2 separate regions of the Homo sapiens genome follow, and region 1 is linked to region 2. Evidence: fine-mapped expression QTL. A gene starts in region 2. The other region holds a variant in brackets. All regions are shown on one strand. Distances are from middle to middle.

Region 1 (4,384 bases), 130 kb after region 2:
CCTTCAAAGCAATCTCCCTGGAAGATGAATTACTTATTCCAAAGATGCTGTTAAAAACACTCTGGATCGTTTCTTTTTCGACACTGAAGTGAATGGAGTATCTTGATGAGGACAAATATTTATCCTTTAAAGGTGGATTTGATTTTTAACAGCTAAAATTCATTTAGATCAAAGTCCGGGGAATAAGGTGCATGATCAAGTTAAGTAATACCATTTTAGATTAAAAGATGAGGATGATAAAATTGAGACTCATTTTCTCGTGAGGATTGTGTATGGTTCTGAAGGCCAAAGAGCCTGAACAATGGCAGTATTGATGGGGTAAGCTGGCACTTTTCAAAGAGATTTCTTTAAAAGACAACACGTTTGAAAGCAGCAATTTTTGGAATCTATTTTTTTAAGCCTATTGCCTCAGAGAGACACTGTAGAATAGTGATTAGAAGCATAGGCTCTCAAAGCAGTTCTGGAATCTAAGCTCAGCATCACCATATATAATATCAACTGTGTGACTCCAAGCAAGTCACTTAACTTGTGTAAGCTTCATTTTCTTTTTTCTTTTATTTTCTTTTATTTTTTTTTTTTGAGATGGAATCTCACTCTGTCACCCAGGCTGGAGTGCAGTGGCACTGTCACAGCTCACTGCAACCTCCACCTACCAGGTTCAAGTGATTCTCCTGCCTCAACTTCCAGAGTAGCTAGGACTACAAGCATGTGCCACCATGCCCAGCTAATTTTTGTATTTTTAGTAGAGATGGGGTTTCAACATATTGGCCAGGATGGTCTTGAACTCCTGACCTCAAGTGATCTGCCTGCCTCGGCCTCCCAAACTGCTGGGATTACAGGCGTGAGCCACTGTGCCTGGCGAGCTTCATTTTCTTCATCTGAAAGGGAGGATTATAATATTAACTACTGGCTGGGCATGGTGGCTCACGCCTGTAATCCCAACACTTTGGGATGCTGAGGTGGGCGGATCACCTGAGGTCAGGAGTTCAAGAACAGCCTGGCCAACGTGGTGAAACCCTGTCTCTACTAAAAATACCAAAAAATTAGCTGGGTGTGGTGGCGCACGCCTGTAGTCCCAGCTACTAGGGAGGCTGAGGCATGAGAATCACTTGAACCCGAGAGGCGGAGGTTGTGGTGTGCCGAGATCGCACCACTGCACTGCAGCCTGGGAAACAGAGCAAGACTGTCTCAAAAAAATATATAATAATAATAAAAATAATATTAACTACTTCACAGATGGCTATGAGGAATAAATCAGGTCATATATATGAAAAGCATGAGGTTATGTGTGCAGAACCCCTATTCTACTACCTGACATATAATAAGTGCCCGATAAATTGTGGCTATTGTGTTTCTTCTTTGTCACATTGTGTACACATAAACACACGACTATTCATGCCTAGATGGGAGTAAATCCATAATGTTGATTGTATTTGTGATGTGTATGACAATACTAGTAACTATCATTTATTATACAGTTGTCATGAGTCAAACCCTTTCAAGCCTCATGATAACCCCCTTACAGGCAGGTACTATTGCTGGACCCATTCTTACAGATGAGGAAGTTGAGGCTTAATGAGGTTAAGTAACCTGCCGAAAGGCATTCAGCTACAAAGCTGTGGAGTCAGGATCTGAACCCAGGCACTCTGACACTTTTAACCCTTTCCCACGCAGCAGCTTCTGAAGCCCTGTCAGTCCTCTTCACAGTGACATGAAGACATCACGAGTAGACGTTCAAGTATGGACATTGAAACCTCAGGGGCTGGATTTGAGTTTGAAGCCCAGCTTACTCACTCACCGGTCATGTGGCCCAGGGGACTAATGAAGACATGATTCCAGGACAGCATCTAGTACAGTCTAGTCCTCAGGAAACAGGGACTGAAATTCAACATGGATGAAACCTGAATCAACTGAGTGTTCCATGCTCAGAATGGTTTTGGTCCCCCACCCCCTACCCTTGAGACATATAAGCTCCCCTGGGCGATAGTAGTACAAGTGTTCTGAAAGGCTTTGGTGATAGCCGAAGTATGAAAAAGCAGCCTTACTGATAGTGGAAAATTCTCCTGAAAGTGGGCAAAGTGTTTC[T/C]ATCAGATTATGGCCAAATTCCAGCTGGGGTGAAGGAGGTGACAGACAAAACCACTTAGTGTTCCTACTCAGTCCACAAGCTGACACTCTGATCAAGCACTTTTCCTAGCACGTGTTCTTGGAGAGCAGCTTGTTATCTGAGGCTGGGGGCCGGGGCTGCCTGCCAATCCCCGGCCTGCAACAGTGCTTTCTCATAGAGTCACATTAAGTCTGAATGGTCACAGGGAAACCTAACGTTGCTTGCAGTTTAGTCTCTGGCTGGTCTGGATCATTCATTCATTCATTCATTCATTCATTCCTCTTTCTTCTGCATCTGGGAGACTCCACACCAGGTTCCCGGGAGTGATTCTGATCTTGGGGACATGTGGTGATTCATTTTTAAAAAGAGGCTTATTTACACGACTACATCTGCTACATGCTTTTTTATCTGTTCTTTGTTGTTGCCTGGAACGACACCTGTTAAATGACCTACATTTTGCCTTCTACCTGCCCTTTAAAAGGACAGAGCAACATAAATTTACATGCACGTTGGGTAGAAGGTGCTTTATTTTCCACCAGATAAAGTATATAATATGGAATTGACAATACTCAAAAGTGCCTCTGATGATTTTTGTTAAAATTCTTCTCAACTGCCCAGTTTCTCACCATGAAAAACCAAGCACTGTCCTAGTTAAGTATCACCCACCCAAGAACTTTTACAAATGTGAACTTGCTTTCCTACTTGGTCAGCATCCACTCCCAACCTAGAAATGTTATCCTCAATATTGAAATTAAAATGGCTTTCCTGGTTAGTTATCTCCCTTTTCTCACCTGTAAATGAGAACCTTTAAAAATGATTTCTGAGACACCTTCCAGTGGCCAAACTTGTGATTCTCTGTTTTGTAAGACAGACAAATGTGTGAGTCTCTCTGTGCCCCAAACAGCAAGCCATCATTCTAACCCAAATATTATTCATTTCATTCATTAGCTTAATAAATGCTTGGTGAATGAGCGACCGAATTAATTAATGAATGCCTACTGTGTTCCCCGCCCCAGGGAACACACGGATAAATAAGACAGCTTTTGCCTTTCAGCAGCTCACACTGAAGAGAGAAACAGATGTATAAACAGAAGTGCTGCTCAGTTTAACTTTCTTTTCAGTGAGTTTTATTTACTTATTATTATAATAAACATTTTAATTTATTTAGTGCCTAGTCTGTGTCAGGCATGCTGCTGGGTGTTATACAATGAATCTTCACACTCACTCTACAAAATAGGCATTATTGACCTTATTTTAAAGATTAGAAAACCAAGGTCAGCAAGTGACAGACTTGATCTGGTTGGCTCCTAATCACGTGTTTGTGGTATGTGATTACTAAGTCATATGTGTATGATATGAGATATATGATCTTTACTGATTCTGGAAAGAAAAGCAAAATGGCACCATGATTTGATCTCAGTGGAAGGCAGCAAGTGGTGGTGTTTCCAATTCATTCGCTTAACCAACATTGATTGAACATCTTCTCAATGTCCAACTTACACTAGACACTGGGGATAAAATTAAAAAGCTAAGCATTCTTCTAATCTCCTAACGCTGTCAGTTTTTAAAAAGGATAAAGAAGGCTGGATGTGGTGGCTCATGCCTGTAATCCCAGCACTTTGGGAGGCCGGGGCGGGCGGATCACCTGAGGTTGGGAGTTCAAGACCAGCCTGACCAACATGGAGAAACCCTGTCTCTACTAAAAATACAAAATTAGCCTGGCATGGAGGCACATGCCTGTAATCTCAGCTACTCGGGAGGCTGAGGCAGGGGAATCACTTGAACCCGGGAGGCAGAGGTTGCAGTGAGCTGAGATCATGCCATTGCACTCCAGCCTGGGCAACAAGAGTGAAACTCCATCTCAAAAAAAAAAAAAAAAGAAGAAGAAGAAGAAGAAAGAAGTGTCAACTAATAATTGCAATGAAATGGGACCAATACTATGATGTACATAGCAACAGAGTGCTCTGGGATCCCAGAGAAGAGAGCAACTCACCCTGGGCTGGAGGACCTTTCAGCTGAGCATTGAGGGATAAGAGTTCACCAGGCAGAGAGGATGGAAGAGGGCATTCTAAGCAGAGGGGACAGAAAGTGCAAAAAGCTAGGGATGTGAACAGAATACTGCATTCAGGGAATACTGAGAAATTCCACGTGGCTGAGTGTAGAGGAAGCGAGTGAGCCTGGAGGCTGATGGAGCCAGCTGGAGTACTCAGTTGGGGCCATGCTGAAGAGCTGGTTCAGAATTTATCCTATGACTGATAGAGATTTTTTTAGGGGGGATAG
Region 2 (4,382 bases):
AGAGGGACACGAAGCCGGCCAGCAAGAAGGACGTGCCTATGAAGAGGTAGACGAACAGAGGCGCCAGCACGAAGCCCCGCAGCGCGTCCACACTGGAGAGGCCAACGTAGCACACCCCGCTCAGCAGGTCCCCGTCTACCTGGCCCATGGCCAGGATAGTGATGGTCTTGACGGCGGGCACGGCCCACGCGGCCAGGTGGAAGTACTGCGAGTTGGCCTCGATGGCCTCGTGGCCCCACTTCATGCCGGCCGCCAGGAACCAAGTGAGAGACAGAATGACCCACCAGATGGAGCTGGCCATGCCGAAGAAGTAGAGCACCATGAAGAGGATGGTGCAGCCCTCCTTCTTGGTGCCCTGCGCCACCGTGCGGTAGCCATCGTCCGAGAAGCGCTCCACGCACACGGCGCGGTCCTCTAGAAGGAAGCCGGCCACGTGCGCCACGGCCACCATGAAGTAGCAGCCCGACAGGAAGATGATGGGCCGCTCTGGGTAGCTGAAGCGCCGCATGTCCACCAGGTAGGTGAGAACGGTAAAGAGCGTCGAGGCGCAGCACAGCACGGACCACACGCCCACCCAGAGGCGGGCGAAGCGCCTCTCCTCCTCCTTAAAGTACATCAGGCCGTTGGCACGGCCCGGTTCGCACGGGGCGCCACAATCGCGCTCACCCAGGAAGCGGTAGCCCAGGTACGGGGGCACCTTGAGCTGACGGGGGCATGAGAAGGGGAAGGCGGGACGCCCCCTGCCATCTGAGGCCCCCGGGGGCAGCGCGGTGAAGGGCAGGTCCGGCAGGTAGGGCGCGGTAGGGTAGGCAGTGGGGCCGCCGCCTGGGCCCCCGGAGCCGTCCGACGTGTTCTGGCCCACGCAGATCTCGCCCGCACCGTGCACCGGGAAGTTCTCGCAGCGCAGCCGCTCGGGCCACTGGAAGCCGAACTTGTTCATGAGCGCCTCGCAGCCCTGGCGGGCGCGCTCGCACAGAGAACGACACGGCGGGATGGCCTGATCGAGCACGGTGCACACGGGCGCATACATGGAGCATAAGAAAAAGCGGAGTTCGGGAGAACACTGCACCTTCACCAGCGGGTAGAACTGGTGCACCTCGAGGCCCGCGTCCTCTTGGTTCGTGTGGCCCAGCAGGTTGGGCAGGATGGTCTGGTTGTAGGCGATGTCCGTGCACAGCGGGATGGAGATGGGCTGGCAGAAGCCGTGGTCCGGCACGGAGATGCCCTTCTCTCCGTGGTACGGCTGCGCCCCGGCGCCCGCGGACAGTGCGCCCAGCAGCGCCAGCACCAGGGCACAGAGGCCCAGGGACGAAAGCGGAGCGGCCGCGCCGGGGTCCCGCATCGCCGGCCGCGAGTGCAGCGGTGCTCTCAGCCTGAGGAGTGCGACGAGGCGGTTGGGAGAGGCTTGGATGCGGGGAGGCGCCGCCGCGCCCGACGCATGAGAGTCCTCACGGCGCCGGGGCCGGGCCGTGGGCGGCGTGGAGCAAAGGGCGCTGCCGCCTGGGTGCCCGCGCCGCGAAGGCGCCGCAGACGCCGCCGCCCTGCACTCGCAGGGCCGCCGGGGGCCCAAAACTCGTCAGCCTGGGTTGGGGGCGCCGAGGAGGGCCGCCTCGCTCTCCCCGCGGGGACGTAACGGTGCGGCTCCCTCCGCCGCGAGGAGCAACAAGCGGCTCCGGCACCCTTCAAAGTTTGCCCAAGACTCTGGACCCCCGGCGCACCGCAGCGCGCACGCCCCCCGCGCCTGGTCCGGTCCCCGCTAGGAGAACCCCTGCCGCCGCCGCTCGCTCGCCCCGGCCGCCGCCTCCGCGGTGCTGCCCCGCCTCCTGGCCTCGAGGCTCCGCTCGTCGCCGCCTCCTTCGCCTCCTCCTCCACACCCCGCTCCTTCTTCAGCCCCAAAAGCTCGGCCCCAAGTTTCAGCCAAACGGCCGGCTCTTGCTGAGTCCGATCTCGGCCCCGGAGTCGGGAGCACGGCGAGTTCTTTTTGGAAACCCAGTCACACTGCGTCCGAAACCGCGAGGCGCTCGTGCCCGCGGCCTGGCCCCGGCCCCTCCAGCCCCTCGCAGCCCCAGCAGCGAGTCCTGGCGCCCGCCGCCGCCGCCGCCGCCGCCGCCCGCCGGGAGTGAGCGCCGACTAACGCCTCGGAGTCGCGCTGGTCGCCAGAAGAAGCGTCGGGCTCGCGGGGTTCCGGGCCGGCCCGCCCCCTCCCGTCCCCTCCCGTCCCCTCCCCTCCCCTCCCCTCCCCCCCCATTCACAAACCACTCCGGGGGCGGCCCCAGGCCCCGGCGGCCCAATGGCGGCCTTTGTTTTTTCGGTGGCCGCCTTCGGATTGGGCGGAAGTCGGAAGGGGCGGGCGCGGGAGTGGCGGAGGCGGTGTCCGCGGCGCTCTGGGCGGATTCCTGAGGGGAGGGGCGGGGGACTGGGAGGGAAAAGTTCGGAAAAACTTTTACCCTGAATTCGCTCAGGGACGAAAACGCGCAGAAAGGGAATTTGCTTCAAAGATTTGTTCCTCTTCCTGGTGCACTCAGATGCGCATTCCTGAGCAGGGGCGCCTTCGCCAGCGGCGTTTGAGGGGAGCGAGGACCGCGCAGCGCCCCTTCGGGGAGAGACGTGACCAGGAGTCGCGTTAGGACTGCAAAGGCTGGCTCTGGCGGGGCTTTCGGGTCGCCGGGTCCTCAATGTGGGGTTTGGGACGGGACGAGAAGGGGGTGCGCCTTGCGGATCGCCTCTTTCCCCCCGGACCCAAAGAGTCCACGCGAGGCCACAGTCCCCTCTCCCCTCCCCCGAGTTATAAAAAGGAGGAGGGGCCGCCTCCGAGGAGAAACCCGAGTCGGGCGGAGGGGGCCGAGTGACGGCGGGAGGAAGGACCCCTCGGAGGAAGGGCCCGAAGCAGGGAGAGCGGGGAACCCGGGCTCAGGCCACCCCGCCCGCGCGCACGGCCTGGAGTCTGGGGAACTGGGGTGACTCTAGCGAGGTTTTAAGGAAACGAAGACGGCGTTGGGGAGACTGGTTCTAGAAGTAACCTGAGACCGAGCGCCCAGGAACACTCTGTACGACGCGCCGGGCGTCTCAGTGGCCCCGTGTGCCTTGGTTCTGCGGCGTGTGCCCTTTCGGGATCCCATCTTCGTTGCAGAAGCAACCATTTGATCCTCCATTTAGAATCTGCGTAGGAATGTTTTAATGCGTCTTAGAAACCAGGCTAATTAAAGAGTTTTCAAAACACAAAGCGGGGTTATCCTCGTTCTCGGGTAGCGTTTTCTGATTGGCAAACGTTCTTTTGTTCTCGGTTAAATCTTCGTCTTGAGCCAGGCGCTGGGCGCTCGCGCGCGCTCTCTGGTTACTCCTGCGGGGGTCATAAGTCACCAGGGGGCCTCTCCCCTCTCTCCGGGCTGCCAGGAATATCAGGAATTCCCATGCAGGAAAGTGACATGTTGAGAAGGAAAAGAAAAAAATCAATCAATCAATCTCTCCTCCTCCTCCTCTTTCCTCTGTCTCTCTCTCTCTCTCTCTCACACACACACACACACACACACACACACAGCAATCCTGTGCTTTAAAAAACGTTATTCCTGGCGGAGCCCTTCTGCCTCAGTCCCGGGTGCTGGAGCTCTGAGCGATTTCTGATCAGGTTGAACCTTGGCAGAAGTTGCTGTCTCTGCTGCCTCCCGTGCGCTTCTTCTACAGCAGGAAAAAAACTCATTCTGAAATCGAAGACAATTAATTGGGTTCCCTTCCATGGGAGACTTTGGCTTTCTCTGTTTTTCTTTATTTATTTTCGATCACTGAAGATTGCTGGGAATCGTTCTTTCCGATTCACGGTTCTTTGTCCTTCCCCACTCCTGTTAATAGGTCGAAAGGGCGGAAGGAAGCCTTTGGGCCAAGGCAGAGTGTTAGACTGATCACATCCTCCATCCGGCCCTCAGCGGGAGTCGCCTTCTTCCTCCCAAGCATCAGTTTCGCCCTCCCTCCCGGACCCCCCCACCCTTTTTTTCCTTTTCTTTGGGACATGTGCTGAAGGTAATACGATACCTGCTTTAAAAATGTTTCATTCCTTCTTTGTGTTTTTAAAAGGGCCCCCCTTTTCTTTCTAAATTATTATTTCTATTACCTAACATCGGGGAGTGTTGATCTTCGGTTGAAATATGTTGCTTAAAGACAATGCTGCTGCTTTGCTTTGTCATTTAAAGTATGTGTGGTGGGGGGTTAGATTCCTTTTTTCTCTCCATGAGCTTCAGGATATCCTCCTTTTCTAAATCAAAATTTCATGCTTATTCATCAGGCCACTGATCTAAGTCATCTTTGCTTATTGAGGAAGAAATACCAAGCACTGTCATCAAATAAAATGAAAACTGACAGGATAAAATACTGTCTCAACTGCAACTAAA

The links. PIP is the estimated chance that this variant, and not a neighbour inherited with it, causes the effect.
Region 1: its variant is the best candidate, but not a certain one, in a credible set for the expression of FZD7 in blood mononuclear cells (TOPMed, PIP 0.62).

Annotation. Positions count from the first base shown.
Region 1 is chr2:201,905,101-201,909,484 of GRCh38, reverse strand. No RefSeq gene overlaps it. Among named protein-coding and RNA genes, the nearest start is that of CDK15, 100 kb to the right of the region's middle. The variant T/C (reference allele first, on the strand shown) is at 2,086.
Region 2 is chr2:202,031,608-202,035,989 of GRCh38, reverse strand. It overlaps FZD7 (frizzled class receptor 7), which reads right to left and starts at 2,135. Exons shown (of 1, transcript NM_003507.2): 1 at 1-2,135. The coding sequence starts at 1,342. RefSeq lists enhancers at 1,094-1,213, 411-1,251 and silencers at 1,814-1,893, 2,004-2,553.